Homo sapiens: one gene and its partners. The protein of the gene in region 1 purifies or fractionates together with the protein of each later gene. This does not show direct contact. Each region holds a gene or a part of one and is shown on either strand. Other genes may lie near its edges.

Region 1 (3,654 bases):
ATTTTAGGCACATAAAATCTTATCTCCTCCACAAGATACATAACTACTTGTAGGAAAAAGTGTTGTAGGAGTTCAGAGGAGGGAGAAATCAAAGTCTTATTAGCTTATAAGGAATGGTTTCAGGGAACGGACTGACCTTTGAACTAACATTTGAAAAATAGGCACCAGTTAGAGAGAGGGCATTTCAGACATAGGGTGTGGCATAAAAAAAAGAACAGACACAAAAAAGCACATGGTCCAAGGAACAGGGAACAATATAGGGTGACTGGAGGGACAGGGTATTTGTAGAGAAACAGTTTACAATATGGCTAGCAATCTAGTTAGGTGGAAATTTTTAAGGCTAAGATATAAAGCCCACTGAAGTTTATGCAGGGAAGTGATGGGATAAAAGTCATGCCTTAGGAAGAATAATCTAGATGTGCTGTATAGGATGGATTGAAAGGGCAAGTCCCTGAAAGCAGGGACAAAACCCATGCATAAAGTAATAAGGGTCTAAAACTAGGGCAGAAGTTAAGGGACTGAAAAGGACAGAAGAGGCCATTGCTACTACAAAGAAATGTTCATCTACCTAACCGGATTACTGTGAAGACCAAATGACATTAAATAAAGACTTGAAAAGTATCTTTACTCACTAGTGGCAAATCCTACAAGGGAGTCAAGAGAGCACAGATGAGGACTTCAGGGAGATGGATTTCAGGAAAGGAAGGAGAAAATCAAAACAACAAAAATATCACATTTTGCAGGTAACTATATATACCTATTAACATTACTAAAATCTTAAGTAATTAAAAGACCTAATTTTGGTCAAGACTGAGCACCAAGAAAAAAAATGCTCACAAGTAAAAACAGAATTTAAAATTATCCCAATAATGTAAAAATTATGTACATGAAAGAACAGAGATTCAAAGGAAAAAGGAAAAATTATTTAACATGTGGGATTGTAGATATCTGTCTTGACGTTTTTATTAGATGTGGTTTTGTATAATTAAAATGGGGACAATGTAAAGCATAAGAATCGTATACAGAATGGGCAATTTTATCTCTTATTATATACCTTATTTTACAATATGGGAAAGAACATACTTTTCTTTGAAAAAGCAAAATCTTTAAGATAACACTGACAACAATACAGCAATAAATGATATTAATTTTATAACAATTGTATAACAATAATTAAATGATCAATTATGCATTTATCATTTAATCAAAATTTTGATGTAAGTTTCCACTCTATTTCTACCCCGCTGCCCAGTGACAAGTGCTCTTTATCTTGCCACTGGCTACTCAGGAACACCATTAGAAACCCACCAGCCAGCAATATTGTATTAATCAGGGATTACTGACTGGAAGAGGGGATAGGTTTCTGATTCCCCTGAAATTGCATGCAAAATGAAGCACATACGTATGTATATTTTTCTAGGGAGAAGGTCTATGGCTTTGATCAGATTCTCAAAGGGCCTCGTGTTCTAAAAGAAAGTTTAGAAACATGAAATTTTCTTCCTCTTCCTAATAATCTTAATAACTAGTTAAAACCAATGTGTCAATGACTTAGAGAATGTTATTTATTCAACTATATCTGAAAAAAGAATCCCCTGAATTCCTCTTCTCAAGTCCCAGTGCCACTTTCCATTCCTTACCATATACAGCCCATGTAAGGTATATCTTTATTTACAACTTTTATAGCATTACTGTTATTCTTCACCACCCCTTAGAATCTATTTCTACCATCCCAGATGATTTCGGAACCTAGCTTACTTTTTCCTCCACACTACTTCCATCCTCCCAACACTACCAAATACTAAGCTCATAATTAAATTACATTTTTCTATTCCTACTCTTAGATATACAAATATGACAAGAACAATACAAATTTGTCCCATTAAAAATTCATGTGAACATAAACTTACCCTATGTTGCTCCTGAATACTACACCAGTAGTAAACTAGGATCACAAAGTAGAGGTACTATATAAAAAGGGCTGGTCCTAAAGGATTACAGTAAAGAAACAAGAGAGTTGCAAGAAACCTTAGAGATCTGGTAGTCAAATATTACTAGTTTACAGGATCTGATGTCCAAAAGAACAAGTTATGTGTCCAAGATAATTAACAGTACAAATAGAGCTCAGGCGGTCAAGTGTCCTGGTCCAGTGTTCATCCCACAATACCAAGTTATGCCCTTTGCACACCAGTTATTTCATTATTTTTAACATTTAGAAATAAAAATCTTTTAAGTCATCTGTATTTTCTTTACAGTAAGGCTTACTCCTACCTCAAGACCTCTTAATAGTATTCAATATCATTCCTTCCAAGCTTACTGTGTGAGAACAATGTAGGGGACAATTAAAAGCCGTGTTGAAATCAAGATAGACTGTCACTCACTCATATGAATAATTGGTTTGGTATGTCTTGCTCTTTTCAAAACCAAGCTGGCTGCTTCCTAACAGCTCGTATTTTTCTAATGACAGCAAATTATTGTTTAATAATTTTAAAAGTCTTTATTGGTCTCCTAATAAAAGGACTATGCTTTTAACATTTGTGTCCCCCTAAAATTCCTATATTGAAACTTAATCACCAATGTGATGGTATTAAAAGGTGGAGTCATTGGGAGGTGATTAGGACTTGGAGAGTAGAGCTCTCATAAACAGGATTAGTTCCCTTATAAGAGGGGCCAAAGAGCTGCCTTGTCTCTTCTACCACATGAGGACACAGCTAAAAGGCACCGCCTATGAACCTCAAGACCTCACCAGACACTAAATCTGTCAGCACCTTGAACTGTGAGAAATAAATTGCTCTTGCTTATAAGTCATGTAGTTTATGGTATTTTGTTATACCAGCCCAAACAGACTAAGATAGACTATTAGTCTAAGAAATTATTTCTCATATGCACATTAAATCCCTCTTCCTGCAAATGAAGTCCACATCTTTGTATCATAACCTAATGTTCCAGTTAAGTTTAGGCATCACTGAACTACAAATAACCCCTTCAGGTCCTTTTTTTTTTTTCTTTTTTTTGAGAGGAAGTCTCGCTCTGTCGCCCAGGCTGGAGTACAGTGGCGCGATCTCGGCTCACTGCAACCTCCGCCTCCAGGGTTCAAGCAATTCTCCTGTCTCAGTCTCCTGAGTAGCTGTAGTCACAGGTGCACGTGACCATGCCCAGCTGCTTTTTGTATTTTTAGTATGGACGGGGTTTCACCATATTGGTCAGGCTGGTCTCGAGCTCTTGACCTCAGGTGATCCACCTGCCTTGGCCTCCTAAAGTGTTAGGATTACAGGCATGAGCCACTGGGCCAGGCCGCTTCAGGTACTTTAAATGTCACTGAATCACCTCTCACCCTTTTCAGTTCCATGATCTATAATCCACTTAAAGACACCCTTATTTCTCTTGTAAGTTCTGTTTTTGTTGTTGTTGTTTGTTTGTTTGCTTGTTTTTGAGACGGAGTCTTGCTCTGTCGCCCAGGCTGGAGTGCACTGGCGCGATCTTAGCTCACTGCAAGCTCCGCCTCCCGGGTTCACGCCATTCTCCTGCCTCAGCCTCCCGAATAGCTGGGACTACAGGAGCCCGCCACCATGCCCGGCTAATTTTTTTTGTATTTTTAGTACAGACGAGGTTTCACCATGTTAGCCAGGATGAATAAGTTCTGTTTTCTATTCTTTT
Region 2 (3,654 bases), on another chromosome or scaffold:
ACCATCAAGAGATGACTGGGTCATCTGGGATCTGCCCTCCATGAATGGATTAACGTCATTATGGTAAGACTGGGTTCCTTATTGCAGGAGTGGGTTGGTTTTAAATGTGAGTTCATCTGGGTACACCTGTAATCCCAGCTACAGGTGTAAGTGGGAGGATCCCTTGAGCCTGGGAGTTCAAGTCCAGCATGGGTAAGATAGTAGCAAGACTCCTTTTGTTGTTGTTGTTGTTGTTGTTTTTGAGATGGAGTCTCACTGTGAGGCCCAGGCTGGAGTGCAATGGCGCGATCTCGACTCATTGCAACCTCCACCTCCCAGGTTCAAGCAATTCTCCCACCCCAGCCTCCCAAGTAGCTAGAACTACAGGCGTATGCCACCAAGCCCAGCTATATTTTTTTGTATTTTTAGTAGAGACAGGGTTTCACCATACTGACCAGGCTCATCTCGAACTCTTGACTTTAAGTGATCTGCCTGCTTCAGCCTCCCAAAGTACTGGGATTACAGGGATGAGCCACCATGCCCGGCCCGACTCCTTATTTTTTGAGATGGGGTCTTGCTCTGTCACCCAGGCTGGATTGCAGTGGTATGATCATAGCTTGCTGCAGCCTCTAACTCCTGGTCTCATGAAATCCTCCAGCCTCAGCTTCCCAAAGTGCTGGGATTATGGGCATGAACCACTGCACCTGACCCTGTCCCTTTAGAAAAAAAAAAAAAGGCATGTTCGACCCTTTCTTGCTTTCTCTCTCACCCTCGCCTTCTGCCATGGGATAACACAGCAAGAAGGCCCTCACCCTTCTCAGCCTCCAGAACCATGAACCAAATAAATTTTTTTCTTTATAAATTACCCAGTCTCAAGTATTGTTATAGCAGCAGAAAATGGACTAAGACAACTGGTTTTCCAATAATGTAGATTTCTACCATCAGTGTTCCATAAATGAAAAGTTTATTAATTTACAACAGAAACAATTTTATAATCAATATCTGGAATATTTATTAAATCATCATAAATGTTATCAGGAGCCTTATTTTATGATGCCAACATAGTTTAAATACTTATTTGATTTGTAAGTTAAAATAATATCTTTGTTTTAGTTTCCACTGGAGGTATATTAAGGATTTAAAAATCTATCCACTAATATATATCAAAATTTTAAATGCAATTATTTTCAAGACCAACAATTCCACTTTGCGGAATTTATCCTACAAATTTATTCCCACATGTGTACAAAAACACGTGCAAGGTTTAAAAGATGGGTACTCCAGCCTTATGGTAATAGCAAAAGGGAGAAACAAGCTAAATGCTAAATACATCAGAGTTCACCTATGATGGAATGATATACAGTCATTAAAAAAGACGAAGGTATATAGGCATGTGCTGTCTATATAACAGTCTTATTTATGCAAAGTAAGGAAAAAATGTGCTTATATAGATGCAGAGAATAGTTCTAGAAAGGATTCACAAAAACTGGCAAGAGTTACCTTTGATAAATGGGACTGGATGAAAAATATGGATTTACTTTTTACTACTATATTCTTTTGTACCTTTTGCATTTTATTTTATTTTTTGAGGTGAAGTTTCACTCTTGTTGCCCAGGCTAGAGTGCAATGGCGCGATCTCGGCTCACTGCAACCTCTGCCTCCCAGGTTCAAGCGATTCTCCTGCCTCAGCATCCCGAGTAGCTGGGATTACAGGCATGCGTCACCATGCCTGGCTAATTTTTTATTTTTAGTAGAGACAGGTTTCTCCATGTTGGTCAGGCTGGTCTCGAACTCCTGACCTCAGGTGATCCGCCCACCTCGGCCTCACAAAGTGCTAGGATTACAGGCATGAGCCACCGCACCTGGCCTGCATTTTTTATACCACAATAATTTACCACATTTTCTATTAAAAGTGTGGTATTAACATGTTTTGATATCATCAATCAAGATCCTAACAGCAATCATTTTATTAATTTGTAAAAGACTAGGTAACAAATGACATACGTAAGATTCCTGAGAAATGACAAGCTAAATTTACACTGAAGTCTCCTCACTTCCTTGTTTCAATTTTTTTCCCCATCAGAAGCCCCAATACCAAAGTCAAGCAGAAACTGACATTTCTGTTCTTGCTGCCATATGCCAGATACAATTTAATAATGAAAAAAGTGGAGCCCAGTTCGAGGATGTAGAAGTAAGACCCTGTCTCAAAAAAAAAAAAAAAAAAAAAAAAAAAAAAAGACTAGAAATAAAATGTCATACCATGCAGTAGTACATGCTACAATAAAATTAAAATAAGGAATTATGACAGAAGCAAACATGGTGTTCACTTTAGATTGGGTGATCAGGAACAGCCTCTCTTAAGAGACTAGAACAGCCAAAGGAGCCAGTTATAAGTTCCGGGGAAAGAGTATTTCAGGCAGGAAAAAGAGCTAATGAAAAGTACCTGGAGGACCTTAGGAAGAATGCTCTAAATAAGGTAAGTGGTACAGTGGCTTATGTCTATAATCAGCACTTTGGGAGGCTAAGGTGGGTAGATTGCTTGAGTTCAAGACCAGCCTGGGAAACAAGGTGAAACCCTGTCTCTACAAAAAAAAAAAAATATCAAAATTACCTGGGCATGGTAGGGCACACCGGTAATCCCATATACAAAGAAGGCTAAGGTGAGAGGACTGATTGAGCCCAGGAGGTTGAGGCAGTGAGCTGTGATCATGCCACTGCACTGCAGCCTGGACAACAGAGCAAGACTCGGTCTCAAAAAAACAAGTGTTTGGGTAATAAAATTCAACAATAAGGTTGTATAACCTAGACACAGTATAACCTAGACACAGTGATTTAAGGGGATATAATTTCATATGACTGGTGTTTTAAAATCGCATGTACTAATAAACTTTTTTGGCCAGGTGCAGTGGCTCACACCTGTAATACCAACACTTTGGGAGGCCGAGGCAGGTGGATAACTTGAGGTCAGGAGTTCGAGACCACCCTGGCCAACATAGTGAAACCCCATCTCTACCAAAAAATACAAAAATTAGCTGGGTATGGTGCTGCATCCCTGTGGTCCCAGCTACTCAGGAGTCTGAGGCACAAAAATCACTTGAACCTGGCAGGCAGAGGTTGCAGTGAGCCAAGATCGGGTCACTGCACTCCAGCCTGGGCAACAGAGGGAAAACCTGCCTCAAAAAAACAAAAACAAAAAAAAAAAAACAAAAACAAACAAACACCATTTGGCCAAATTCTTAAATTATACTGGAATCTTTTACCATAGGGCTAAGATCACTAAGACAATTCTATAGCTGAAAGGGACTTTAGACATTAACTTAAAGATTAGAAAAATGAGGCTTAGAAAAGTAAAACAACTTTCTCAAAGTTACTCAGTGAAGAAAAGGCAGGGCAGGGACTTGAACCAGACTTTTGATTCCACTGACTTTCCCAATGCTCAAACTAAGGCTCCAACCTACGTTCACTGTACCCCAAACATGTGCCTCCCCTTAAAGAGAACAATTATCACTGGCTGACTCTGCACTGACTGGTCTCACAAGAGGTCTTATCAAGTGAAGGTCGTTTAGTTTCCAGCCTGAGAAGGAGCTATCCATCTCAATGTGTGCATTTAACATAATGTATTGTTGATAGTAAATACTAGAACTTGGGCTCAAAGAGCTGGATCAAATTTAAGTC
Region 3 (3,654 bases), on another chromosome or scaffold:
CTTTGGCAGGAATATCACAAAAGTAATGCTGTGTTCTTATTGCAGCCTATCAAGTAACATAATTTCAGTTTGCCCCATTATCAATAATGTTAATTTAGACCCCTTGACTAAGGTGGCGTCTGCCAGATTTCTCTACTACAAAGATACTCTTTCTCTCTTTGTAACAAATTAAATATTTTGAGGATAAGTATTTTAAAATTAGTATTAGCATCCTCTTTTTTTTTTAATTTTCTTTTTTTGATTCAGATGGGAGTCTCACTATGTCACCCAGGATGGCTGGAGTACAGTGGGCAGCACAATCATAGCTCATTGCAGGCTCCACATCCTGGGCTCAAGCGATCCTCCTGCTTCAGCCTCCTGAACAGGTGGGACTATTGGGCTTTTTTTTTTTTTGGAGGGATGGGGTCTCATTATGTTGCCCAGGTTGATCTCAAACTCTTGGCCTCAAGCAGTCCTCCCACCTCAGCCTCCCAAAGTGTTGGGATTACAGGTGTGAGCCACTGTGCCCAGACTAATGTTAGCATCCTTTGATGTTCCTTAGCTGAATTAAATATTACTATGATGATTCTCAAATGGTAATTTTTCTAATTCTATCATTCAGCAAATTATTGCATCAAAAAGCTTTCTTTTCTACCCATTTATTAATTCACTTATTTATATCAGTTTGCACTCATGGATTTTCATTTTATTCAGGTGACTATCATCTATTACTATCATTATTTACTTTGAAGTTCAAACTGCCCAGGCAGGAGTCCTTGCAAGCTGACTCTGTGTCCTTTGAAATATGTTCCCATCATTCTTTCAGCACTTCTTTACTTTCTGGCACAATAATATGTTCCAAGCTCATCTTATACTTTCTCTCCTCCCGCCCTAGAATTGGCCACTGCTCTGAGCTCTGGGTCCTTTCAGTGCATAACTGTATTTAGAAAATAAGACCTAGCTTCTAAGTGTGCTAATTACTAAGGAGTGGCAATGTTTCCAGGTCCTCTCAGTGGACATAGCTAGAGAATATGTACACACAAACACGCATGCACACATCCACATTTACATCTATATCTATTTCTAGGTCTATCAATACATTTTAAAAACCATGAGTTCACACCAGTACCTCCAATTCCATTCTACCACCACAAACTTTTCTTCCTTTTCACATAGGTAACTCCCTTTTCCGGCAGTGAGAATCCTGTGTCCCTTTATCATCAACATATGTACTCACAGGCATACCTTACTTTATTGCACTTTGCTTTACTGCACTTCACATATATTGTGTTTTCTTATAAATAGAAGGTTTTAGCAACCCCGAGACAAGCAACTCTATCAGTGCCATTTTTCTTTTTTCTGAAAAATCTTTATTGCTTCTGCTGATTACACAACAAATGTAAAAATTCAAATATTACACTTTTTTAAAAAAAAGTACATTATAACATGTCATTAAATAAATGCCCATTTCAAAAAAATTCAAGTATCATAAAATACATGATTTAGAAAATGAGTCCTCTGTAATCCAGTCCCACCCCCATGTCCCCCAGGATTACTGCTGTTCAGATCAGCGTTTCCTTCCAGATTGTCTCTGCGCACTCACCACCTGCACTGCTGACATGAGCTCCATATTATCTGAGATGATAGTAACTCTGATAAATGGAGCAGGAGCAGGGTTCAGCTGCCAGTGCACTGAACAGCTTCCAGTTTCTACACAGAAACACTTTCTTCATAAAAGCTTGAAACTACAACATCCTTTTGCACTATGTAAATGTATCAAGTTGAATCATGAAATTAACGATCGCTCACCATTTTTGGCCTAGAAAAACGGCAGTTTCATGTGGTTCGACATAATAGCTATGGCCCTATTCATAGACATTGGGAGGTTTCCTACTTTTTGCCATTATAAACAATTCAGCAGGCCAGGTGCGGTGGCTCACGCTTGTAATCCCAGCACTTTGGGTGGCCAAAGCAGGCAGATCACTTGAGGTCAGGAGTTCAAGACCAGCCTGGCCAACATGGCAAAACCTCATCTCTGCTAAAAATACAAAAATTAGTCAGCCATGGTGGCGGACACCTGTAATCCCAGCTACTTGGTAGGCTGAGGCAGGAGAATCACTTGAACCCAGGAGGCAGAGGTCGCAGTGAGCCGAGATCGCGCCACTGCACTCCAGCCAGGAGACACAGTGAGACCCTGTCTCAAAAAAAAAAAAGAAAAAAATTCAGCAGTGAATGTCCTTTTATGTTCTTTATGGAGTACAAACATCTTACCCCCAAAGCATGACACCTCTCTTTTGGGCATTTAGAACAGTCAAGAAGGATGGAGCTGCCCATTTGCCATGGAAATGGAGAGCCAGCAGACAGCTGATGCATAAACAACTTGTCCCTCAAACAAGAGTGGCTAACTTCAGCCATGACACCGTTTTAGTATGGTGACCACACCACATGAGCAAACCAAATACTGGTAAAACCAGAGAACAGAAGAATTCCTCAGCTCAGGACAATTCTTATCCCTACTGACGACTCACAAGACATCCAGTGAGTACCCCAAAGTTGTCCTCTGGAAGTTGGGCTGTCAGAAGGTACAAAAAATGATTCAGGCCAGGCACGGAGGCCCACGCCTGTAATCCCAGCACTTTGGTAGGCCGAGGCAGGTGGATCACCTGAGGTCAGGAGTTCGAGACCAGGCCGACCAACATGGCGAAACCCTGTCTCTACTAAAAATACAAAAATTAGCCAGGCATGGTGGCACATACCTGTAATCCTAGCTACTTGGGAGGTTGAGGCAGGAGAATCACTTGAACCCGGGAGGCGGAGGTTGCAGTGAGCCAGGATCACACTACTACACTCCAGCCTGGGCAACGAAAGTGAAACTCCACCTACAAAAAACAAACAAACAAACAATGATTCAGAAATGTACTGAAATCAGATTTGCCGGAAATATTTTTTAAGGTTTTTTCCAGGAGCTACTGGAGTGACCAAAAAAAAAAAAAGGCACCTGTTAAAATTATGCCCACGACAGGCCTCGAACAAAGACGAGAATATGGTGTGTATATGTCACTGGCGCTTTCACACAGGCCACTTCCTCTTCAACCTTGTCTGGGGTTTGTAGATTCTGTTCAGGTCATAGCTGGTTTTGTGGGTGGTTTTCTTATGGCAGACAACACTAATTTTAGGTTCTCTGAGGTAGAAAGCAGGCCATAAAAATATTCCCAGTCCACTTCTCTTCCATCTTGTTCTTTAACTGCTTCCACCAGTGTAGGAATGATGGTGCGTTTTTGTTTCCACTATGTGATCCAGGTTCCAGGTCCAGAAGAGGAGCCTGCTCTCCCTGTTACTGTAGGGGTTGATGGAGTATCTTGACAAGCAGCCGTCCATGTCGAAGGGACCCTGGCAGGAGAACTAGCCTTCCGGTGTGCAGAGACGGCTGCCACCCTTGGCTCCTCTGTTGTATAGCTGCCGTCGTACTGCACAGACTGGAGCTTCTGGCACATGGAGCGGAGGACCCGCAGGAATTCCTCCTGAGCCTCTGCACCCACCATGGAGGAGCAGGAGCTCACCTCTCTCAGGTAACTCCGGATCCGGCTTTCACAGCTGTATCTCAGATAGCCAGACTTATTCCAAAATCGGGACTCCAAGCCTTCAAACCACAGCGGGTCCTCAGCCCGGGTGTCG

The links.
Region 2: the proteins of ABCB7 (region 1) and ATP6V1D fractionate together in Homo sapiens (co-fractionation; one large-scale study listed by BioGRID). This does not show direct contact.
Region 3: the proteins of ABCB7 (region 1) and NDUFB6 fractionate together in Homo sapiens (co-fractionation; one large-scale study listed by BioGRID). This does not show direct contact.

What each region holds. Positions count from the first base shown.
Region 1 is NC_000023.11:75,149,667-75,153,320, forward strand, and holds part of ABCB7 (iron-sulfur clusters transporter ABCB7, mitochondrial), read right to left. Parts: intron 1-3,654. UniProt on the Homo sapiens protein: Exports glutathione-coordinated iron-sulfur clusters such as [2Fe-2S]-(GS)4 cluster from the mitochondria to the cytosol in an ATP-dependent manner allowing the assembly of the cytosolic iron-sulfur (Fe/S) cluster-containing proteins and participates in iron homeostasis.
Region 2 is NC_000014.9:67,353,265-67,356,918, forward strand, and holds part of ATP6V1D (V-type proton ATPase subunit D), read right to left. Parts: intron 1-3,654. UniProt on the Homo sapiens protein: Subunit of the V1 complex of vacuolar(H+)-ATPase (V-ATPase), a multisubunit enzyme composed of a peripheral complex (V1) that hydrolyzes ATP and a membrane integral complex (V0) that translocates protons.
Region 3 is NC_000009.12:32,563,112-32,566,765, forward strand, and holds part of NDUFB6 (NADH dehydrogenase [ubiquinone] 1 beta subcomplex subunit 6), read right to left. Parts: exon of another isoform or gene 3,280-3,654; intron 2,518-3,279; exon of another isoform or gene 2,286-2,517; intron 1-2,285.